Regions from separate parts of the Homo sapiens genome. Here region 1 is linked to region 2. The links come from fine-mapping of genetic effects on gene expression. A gene starts in region 2. The other region holds a variant in brackets. All regions are shown on one strand. Distances are between the middles of the regions.

Region 1 (4,405 bases), 360 kb before region 2:
TCCCAGCACTTTGGGAGGCCATGGTAGAAGGATTGCTTGAGCCTAGGAATTTGAGACCAGCCTTAGGAACATAGGGAGACCCCATATGTATTAAAAAAATAAAAAAATAAATTAGCGGGATGTGGTATTGTGCACTTGTGGTCCCAGCTACTCAGAAGGGTGATATATGAGGATTGCTGCTTGAGCCCGGGAGTTCTAGGCTGCGGTGAGCTATGATTACACCACTGCACTCCAGCTTGGGTGACAGAGCGAGACCCTGTCTCAAAAAAAAAAACAAAAATAGTATTTTAACAGAGGTGCTACACAATATGCTGGAATGTGTCCAAAGTGGATCAAAGGATTCTTGCTGCAGGAAAGTGCATTCTGCTATGGAAAGTTTTAATAAAGCAGAGGTTGTTCCTCTGCTTTATTAAACTGTCTAATAAGCACACATCTAATTTAATAGAAATAAGTGTAAGACATATGTAGCTTTGGAGAGAAACTGTCTAATTTAATAGAAATAAGTAAGACATAGGTAGAGAAACTAAACATATGTAGAAATTGGAATATCAACCTTAAAATGGTTACTACCACAATTACAAGAAAGCAATTCAGTAATTGTAATAGTAATCAAAACTTCTGTGTATTGTAGTCATTTATGCAAATAGAGTTGGCTGTATATAAGCACAAATCAATACAAATGACTACATGATGGCGGGATTTATTTAGTAGAGGCCAAATTACTGAAATATCTAGCATAAAGGGAAAAAATCCATAAATACGTATGTACCTGCTATATCAAGAGAAATGCTATGAAACAACTAAAGGAAATGTGGAGGAAATATTTAGTTCTAATATGTTTAACAATACCATCCCAAGAGAGAATAAATGAAGGTGCTGCTGGTGCCTGAGTGGGATTTTAAAGGACAAATCTGGGTTTCCAGAAGGAAAGAGAAAAGACATGGAGACTTTTATCAACAAAACAGGTTTGGGTGAGGCATGCTAGAACCCCAAAGTGTGGAATGATTAGTCAAAGTAGAAAAAACTGGCACTCATAGTTGGCAGACAGTCCAAAATACAGTGCCAATAGGGGAGTGTCAAATTCCGGGTTAATTTAAGCTACTTCAATTCATGGTGACTTGATAAGTTGTAGCATTATAGCAGAGGGATCCAGGCTGCAGTAAAATTCAAAGTCAGTGGGGAACAGGGTCATATTTTAGTGGTTTGCTTGGTTTTCTGTAAGACCCTAAGCAACAGCAATTGAAATAAGAACAATGTGCAACCCTAAGGGAGGAGCAATTGGAAGGGGCTAGGAAGGCTGGCTGGCAAAAGCCCAATGAAGCAAGTTTGTTTTCAAGGAATAGTGTGGAAACTGAAAAACATATGGTTGTCCCTGCGTCCATCTAGACACCCTGAATGCTGGTTTTATAACAGCATACTACATTTTGTGCACACTTCCAGATGGAGCCCCTAATATGCTGTCTTGGCAGGATGCCTTTGAGTTGGGCCTGGATGTGATTGTATATGCTAAGAGTATTGCTAGAGATAAGAATAACTCCGTCAGACAAAGACTGAGGGGGAATGGACAGTCATGCCATATTTAGGGAAAGGGATATTAATTTCATATTCAAACCTAAATACCTGCCTACTGTCATCTTAAATTGTAAGTATCTTCCAAGATACTTACAATTTAAGATATCACCTTTTAAATTTAATTGTAAATAAGTATCTTAAATTTAAAACATCTAAACTTAAGCTGTC[G/A]GCCAGGCATGGTGGCTCATGCCTGTAATCCTAGCACTTTGGGAGGCCAAGGCGGGTAGATTGCTTGAGCTCAGGAGTTCGAGACCAGCCTGGGCAACATGGTGAAAGCCCACCTCTACTAAAATACAACAAGTTAGCTGGGCGTGGTAGCGTGCTCCTGTAGTCCCAGTTACTTGGGAGGCTGAGGCAGGAGAATTGCTTAAACCCGGGAGACGGAGGTTGCAGTGAGCTGAGATAGCACCACTTGCACTCCAGCCTGGGTGACAGAGCGAGACTCCTCTCCAAAAATAAATAAATAAAAATAAAAAAAAATAAACCTAAGCCGTGCTATTCTGCCTGAAACTAGTTCCTCCCTATCTTTATTTCAGGTAGGCGCACCCACTTGCTCAAGCCAGAAGTTTAGGAGTCATTCTTGATACACCTGCTTCCCTTACCCCTTTCATGCAATCTCTCGCCAAGCCTTATAAATTTTACCTACAAAGTACTGCTGGTCTCCCTTCCCTTCCACCTCCACTGCCCCACAGAGTTCAAGCCACCAAGTTCTCTGGACTAGATGATAGCCTGATAGGTTCTCCACTTCTCCTTCTCATCTTTCCCCAACACAGTCTCCATCGAGCAGCTTGATCATTTAAAATTGTAAGTCTGGTCAAATTACTCATCTGCTTAAAATAACCTCAAGCCTCCAATTGCTCTTAGCATAGCATTAAAATTCCCCACTATGGCTTCTGATGCTCTGCTGTTCTGCAAGATCTGGCCCTGGCTCCCTCTCCAAACTGCTTGTCAGTCACTCTTCCCTGCTTCAGGCACACTGATAATTTTCAGTTCTTTAATCACACCAAGTTTTTTTTTTTTTTTAATCAATTTAGGGCCACTTAATCTGGAATTTTTCATCATACTTCTAGGCCAAAAGAGAGACCTAGCAGTGTTATTTATTAAATAGTTATGAGCAGAGAACTTGGTATTTATTTGTCCTAACAACTTATTAGCTATTTTTAAAAAACACATAAATTGAAGAACATTTTAATTTCATTCTTAACTAATCACATTTATTAATATGATGTCTGCATCCCTTGCTTATAGCGCAGACTCTCAAACTTTGGAATCAGATTGGATACTGCCATACTCATTTTCTGTTCCACATTGTTTCTTTTCAGAGGGACGTGCTTTTTATCAGAGCAAAATATGCTTAAATCATGCTTAAAATATGCTTTGCAAAGATATGACTTCATAAAAAAATGTAGTGTGATCTAGCTCACCTTGTATCCAAAGGATATTGAGTATCTCTGGATTTCTCTCTGAAAAATTTAAGACATCTCAAAGCACCCCAGGGAGTTCACTGCAGGGCCCCAGGGTTCCTTGGAACACAGTTTGGGAACCATAGCTTTGGAGGGTTTTAGGGAAACGTGATCTGATTTGAGTTAGATTTTAACAGATTTACTTTGGCTTTGTGGAGAAAAAAACTGAAGAGGACGAAGGTAGATGTGTGAAGATCAGTTAACAGGCTACCACAGTAATTGAGAGCCAATGGTGAGAGCTAATGGTGGCCTAGACTGGAGTGGTAATAGTTGGGCAATGAGAAGGAGTGCTGCATAGATATGTTGAAGATAGAGCTTGCAAGATTCGCTGATAGATTGGATTACAGTTGTGGAGGACAGATCAAGGATAACTCTGAATTTATTGGTTTGATAACTGGAAGGATAGACTAACAATTTTAATAGGGGTAGGGGAAAAATAGGAACAGTTTTTACATGTTAAATTTGAAGGCGCTGATTAGATATCCAAGTAAAAACGTTAAATAGGAAGCCAGGGTCTGGTGTGCAGGTGAGAGTTCTGATCTAGAGATACGTACATTTGTGAATCATCACTATGTATTTGCAGGCAGGAGACTGAGTGACATCTCCAAGGGAGTTGGCTATAGAGAGGAGATATTCAAGACAAATGACAGCAGATTTATGCACTGCTGGGAGAGACTCAGATAGAGGGGAATAGATGCTGCTGCTGAAAGGGAAGAATTACTCAATAAGGAATCACGGACTCTAATCCATAGCCCTAGTTAAGGGCTGGCATTAGGAACACAGACAGCTTATACATAGGAATAGGGAAAAGAGTAGAGGATATGGGGATTAATGAAGGTAGGTATTTATATATGAAGATTATCAAAGTTCTCTTTTTATTGTTTCTGTCTTCTCAGTGAAATAGAAGCAAAGCCATCAGCTGAGAGGGACAGCAGTAGAGAAGGAGTTGGAAGTTTGAGGAGAAAGGAGAAGGGATAGAATAGCTGTCTTAGAGAGTGGAAGATCAAATGGAATAGGTTAATCATATCATTGGCGAGCATCATTGCTTACTGGAGCTTAGTGATCATGAGTCATGAATTAAAGTGAGAACACTTAGCATGGTTAAATGGTTTCTGAGCCAGGTTCAGCTTCCCTGGTTCAAGTGTGGAACAGATAAGCAGCTAGATTTAACCACTGTGACATAAGTTCAAAGTGTGATGAAGAAAGAGAGGGCAAGGGGTTTGAGGGCTTATTTGAGAGAGAGAGTATAATGATTGATCCTAGATTTTAAGTGGGTAAGTTCAGTGAAGATATGAGAGGCAAGAGTCAATGAACAGGCAGTGCAATCAGTAGGGCCTGGAGGGTTCCAAGGATGGTTACAATAAAGCTGC
Region 2 (4,405 bases):
AGGTGCCATGAATACTTTCCAAAGTGGTGCAACCCTAGTTGGACAGCTCCACTTGTTAAGATCTGCAGCTGTGAACAACCATGTGAATTTCCTCTAGTTGCTCCAATGTTTCATAATATCCTTGCTCACCTCCTGAGTTTATATATCTGTTTATGCCTTTTCAAGTTTAGTATTAATTCCTTGTTTAAAGCTCTCAATATTTCAGCTATGGCTCTCCTAAAATGATTTCACTTTAGTTAGGAGTTGAATAGTCATCAAAATGTGTCAAAACCTGGACTTTGGTATATATTATTATAAAGTCTGTATCTCATCACTGTAGTTTGAATTTTAGTGACACCTCTGGTACACCTCACTACCCTCTTAAAGAACTTGATGATGTCTGTCTCACCATAGAACGTGAATCTTTTCTCTCCCATTTTTAGGTGCACCAATGAAGAGTTAAACAGTATGCATTTGACCACACATACTACTCGTGATCCAACTGGGAATATATCCTAGGAAACTTGGCTGCCTGTCCAGTGTGCCACATGACCATCATTTCTGATGACTGTAAATTCACATAGTATTTCTTCTGCTGAAACATGTGGGAGACAATCACATTAGCAAGCTGGAAAAAATCAGTGTAAGTTAAGTAAGTTTCTAAACTGAAGAGCGTGTGTTTTCCAGGATTCCTATTGCTACTGACTGTAAGTGGTCCACATTTTGTTAATGAGATCATGACGCATTTTGGGGAGGGTCCTTTCATTATAGAGCACCAATGTTCACATTCTTCTTCTTGCTTTGCCTGACATAGACTTTGCCCCTGTGACATCCTCCTAACAAGGCACTTCTAATTGTTGGCAGCTGCTGCTGCTGTTAAAATTCTTCATGGCCTCTGTGTTATGCCCTCTAATACATTTCCTGAGAGGCTGAGCTATTCTCTGCTTAAAATTTCAACTATATGCTCTAAACCTGAAACAGATGTTATCTTGGCTGCTGTCATTTGCCATGAGCTTCTCTATTCACATTTTATACAAGGCAGGTAAAAAGCAAGTAATTTCTGACCTCACTCTGTAGAGAAAGAAAAAAGGGAGAGAAGGTAAAATAAGAGAGAGAAGAAGAAATATATAAAGCACAGGAATGCAGCCACATGGAAGCAGAGAACACAGCCACTTGAGCATCTATTATCCTAATATCATATGCTATAGTTTGGTTACTACCGATTTGCCTGGCATCCCTCTCGAATCATATTTGTGGCCACCCAGATTAACTATGTTAGCTGATCTCTTGATTTAATATCAGCTTGTTCTTTTTAGCTCCCATGTCATTTACTGTCTTAAAAAAATGTACTGCTTGTTACTCAACTGTCTGTTTTTTCATGAACCCACAGTCTTTTTTTTTTTTGTCTTTGTTTCTTCTTTTTTGTATGGGAACCAGGAACTAGAAAGCATAAAATGAGAGAAATTACTCACAGAAAAGGTGGAAGCCCAGAGAAAAAGGGGTTTGTCTTTTATGGCTTGTACTTTGTAAGCTGTGGGTGTGACTCAATTTCCTCACCACCCACATAAAAAGGTTGCCACCCAATCACTGTTTTTTTCTACCCCAAACCCCTCCCCTTTGATTTTGGCTAAGAGAGACCCTTAGAAAGACTGCCCTTTCTGGACGTTGCAAACTGTGACATATAAAAGCTGTTAGCTGCTCCTCTAGCCAGCAGCATTCAAACCTTGCAGAGCTTTGCTCTCAGAGAGTTTGTAAAAAGACACACTCCTCTTACAAGAGTTCATGCTACCACATAGCAAAGAACCTTAAATTTTTGGAAGAACAATATATTCATTTTGGCATTGTGCAGAGGTAAGCTATTTAGCTCAACAAGTTTATATTGCATGCATTGATTTTAAAGTAGCTCACATTTTTTTAAAGAAATGAGATTGGATTACTATGACTTTTTTGTATGTGTTCTATCACTTGGTGTGTCTATATGTCTGGCAGACATTATCAGCACATTCTCTGTTGTTACCTGTGATTCATTTTTTCTTCACTCTCCAGGTGAATTTCAATTGCTGAAAATTTCCCACTGAAAATATGCAGTAATATATTTTGTGGTTCAGACATTTGGGGCAAATGGTTCACATTCATTTTAGGGTTAGTGGTCATGCTGTTTATTTTTCTCTGCTATACAAAGTTCCTCTTAGGGGTCTGCCTCATGACACTAAAAAATGAATAGAGATTCTACTGTAGGTTATCTCCTAGGCTTGAGTTCAACATTTGTTTGGATTTTTGAAGAAAGTCAAATCAAGCAATGCTCCCAAATGATGTCTTTGTAAATTCATACCCTCTGGCCCTATTTTTTTTCATAGACCCTAACTCTACCTTTCTGCTTTAAAGCAAAGTAAACTCGGTGGCCTCTTCTTCTCCACCCCTCAAAATGATAGCAATCTCTGCCGTCAGCAGTGCACTCCTGTTCTCCCTTCTCTGTGAAGCAAGTACCGTCGTCCTACTCAATTCCACTGACTCATCCCCGCCAACCAATAATTTCACTGATATTGAAGCAGCTCTGAAAGCACAATTAGATTCAGCGGATATCCCCAAAGCCAGGCGGAAGCGCTACATTTCGCAGAATGACATGATCGCCATTCTTGATTATCATAATCAAGTTCGGGGCAAAGTGTTCCCACCGGCAGCAAATATGGAATATATGGTAAGAAGAATTCTTTTTTTTTTTTTTAAGTTCTGAGTGAGAAAGCTTTATATTGTACATCTGCAGAATCTCAAACGACCACGAGTGTTTATATGTCCGGGTATATGGACTTTTTACATATTTTAACCTAAGGTTCTTATGTGCCTAATAATGTTGAGTACTGTTGCATCACAGAATCAGAGAGACAGAGAGGTCCAGAGAGACAGAGACAGACAGATAGAGAGAATCTATGTAGACTTTCTTCTGTGAGTTCCATAGCTACTGGTGAATTGTATCTTATGTAAGAATCATAGATAAAAAGTGGGGTATGTTGACTGATCACATTTGGAAGGTCCACTTTAAAAAAAGTCACATGAACTTTTTCTGTGCTTTATCTCACAGTCATATTTATCAGCTATATCATTTCTTGAAAATACTTCTTAAAATTATAGGTTTCATATGCATGATTTATTCTCTGGGTAGGTGTCTTTTCCCTTTTTTGGACAAAGTTCTTACTGACGCTAACCTATTTGTATTCTAAGAGAACATGCTGACTTTTTTCTCCTTGTGATTTAATGCTTTGCTGTCCAGATAACAGTGAAGCCAGTGCATTTGCACACTGTTCCAACTTGCCGTGAACACATTTTTTGCTCTTTCTTAAAAATAGACAATGTTTAAATCATTTTACTTAGAAAGTAAAAAAAAAAGTTAGTATTGAAAGGAAAAAGTCTTGTTAAAATTTTTATTTGGTTTTGAATTTATGCAAGGTTATGATTTAAAGTCCAGCGTCTTACAAGAGCACAGCTTGGAGCCTGTTTAAGGCAATGAAGACCATCAATATGGTATTTCCAAATTGGGGTGAGGGGAGGGGGTACCACTAACAGTTTTATATGTGCTGAATTAAAATTTGGGATTTTTATCATATTCTAGATTCACTTGTTTTATGTAAATAAGTTATATTAAAAAGTTTGGCTAGTTGCAGATGCCAATGTCACAGGAAAACTAAAGACTTGCTAAATGATGTAACAGAGTCACAGTTCATAGAAGTACAATTTAGACTCTGTGAAAATGCATTTTCCTAGAATTTATAAAGACAGAGAAGATGTAATCAGTCCTGGTGTGTGAGGAGCAGTATAGTCTCATGATTAAGAATATGGGCTATATAATCTAAATGCTTGGGTTTGAATCCTAGTCCTGAAGTATATGCTGAATGAACTCATTACCACACTGTTTCATTTTCATCATCTCTAATATGAAGATAAAGGTGGTATCTGCCACACAGCATTGTTGTGAGAAATGTATGAGTTGACGAGTAATCAGACCAGAGCCTGTTGCTAACTAGATGTTCAACAAACATTAGTTTTGATGGGTTTCTTTGAACTTCTTGTGAAAGGTGCCCAGTGAAAACTCATTCAAGATCTAAAGACAAAAAGTTACCCATACAGAAGAGATGTTTTTAGAAGGTGATGTAAATATGTAAAAATTAGATGAGCAAACACATTTTTAAAATTACTAAAATGATGAAATAAATATGCCTAAGATACCATGCAAGCTCAGAAAGGCATAATATCCCAACTATGAGTTTAGAGAATTTGTAGCAATCACATGACTCTAAAGTGAGAACCAAGACTGCTGAGCCAGCTTTGAAGGTGAGCTCATCTGGGTTCAAATCCTAACTCTGCTGCTTACTTTGTGGCCTTGCACAGGTTATTTAATGTGTCTAAGACCCAATTCATTTATCTGTAAAAT

Which allele goes with the higher level. Positions count from the first base shown, and alleles are read on the strand shown. Sizes are in standard deviations (SD) of each study's normalised expression.
For the expression in anterior cingulate cortex of the gene that starts at base 1,689 in region 2, allele G in region 1 goes with a higher level than allele A (moderate effect, 0.46 SD a copy in GTEx).

Evidence for each region. PIP is the estimated chance that this variant, and not a neighbour inherited with it, causes the effect.
Region 1: its variant is the best candidate, but not a certain one, in a credible set for the expression of PI15 in anterior cingulate cortex (GTEx, PIP 0.60).

The regions. Positions count from the first base shown.
Region 1 is chr8:74,463,198-74,467,602 of GRCh38, forward strand. It overlaps a transcript of GDAP1 not described here. Among named protein-coding and RNA genes, the nearest start is that of MIR5681A, 83 kb to the right of the region's middle. The variant G/A (reference allele first, on the strand shown) is at 1,741.
Region 2 is chr8:74,822,846-74,827,250 of GRCh38, forward strand. PI15 (peptidase inhibitor 15) reads left to right here and starts at 1,689. Exons shown (of 6, transcript NM_015886.5): 1 at 1,689-1,830; 2 at 2,365-2,677. The coding sequence starts at 2,405.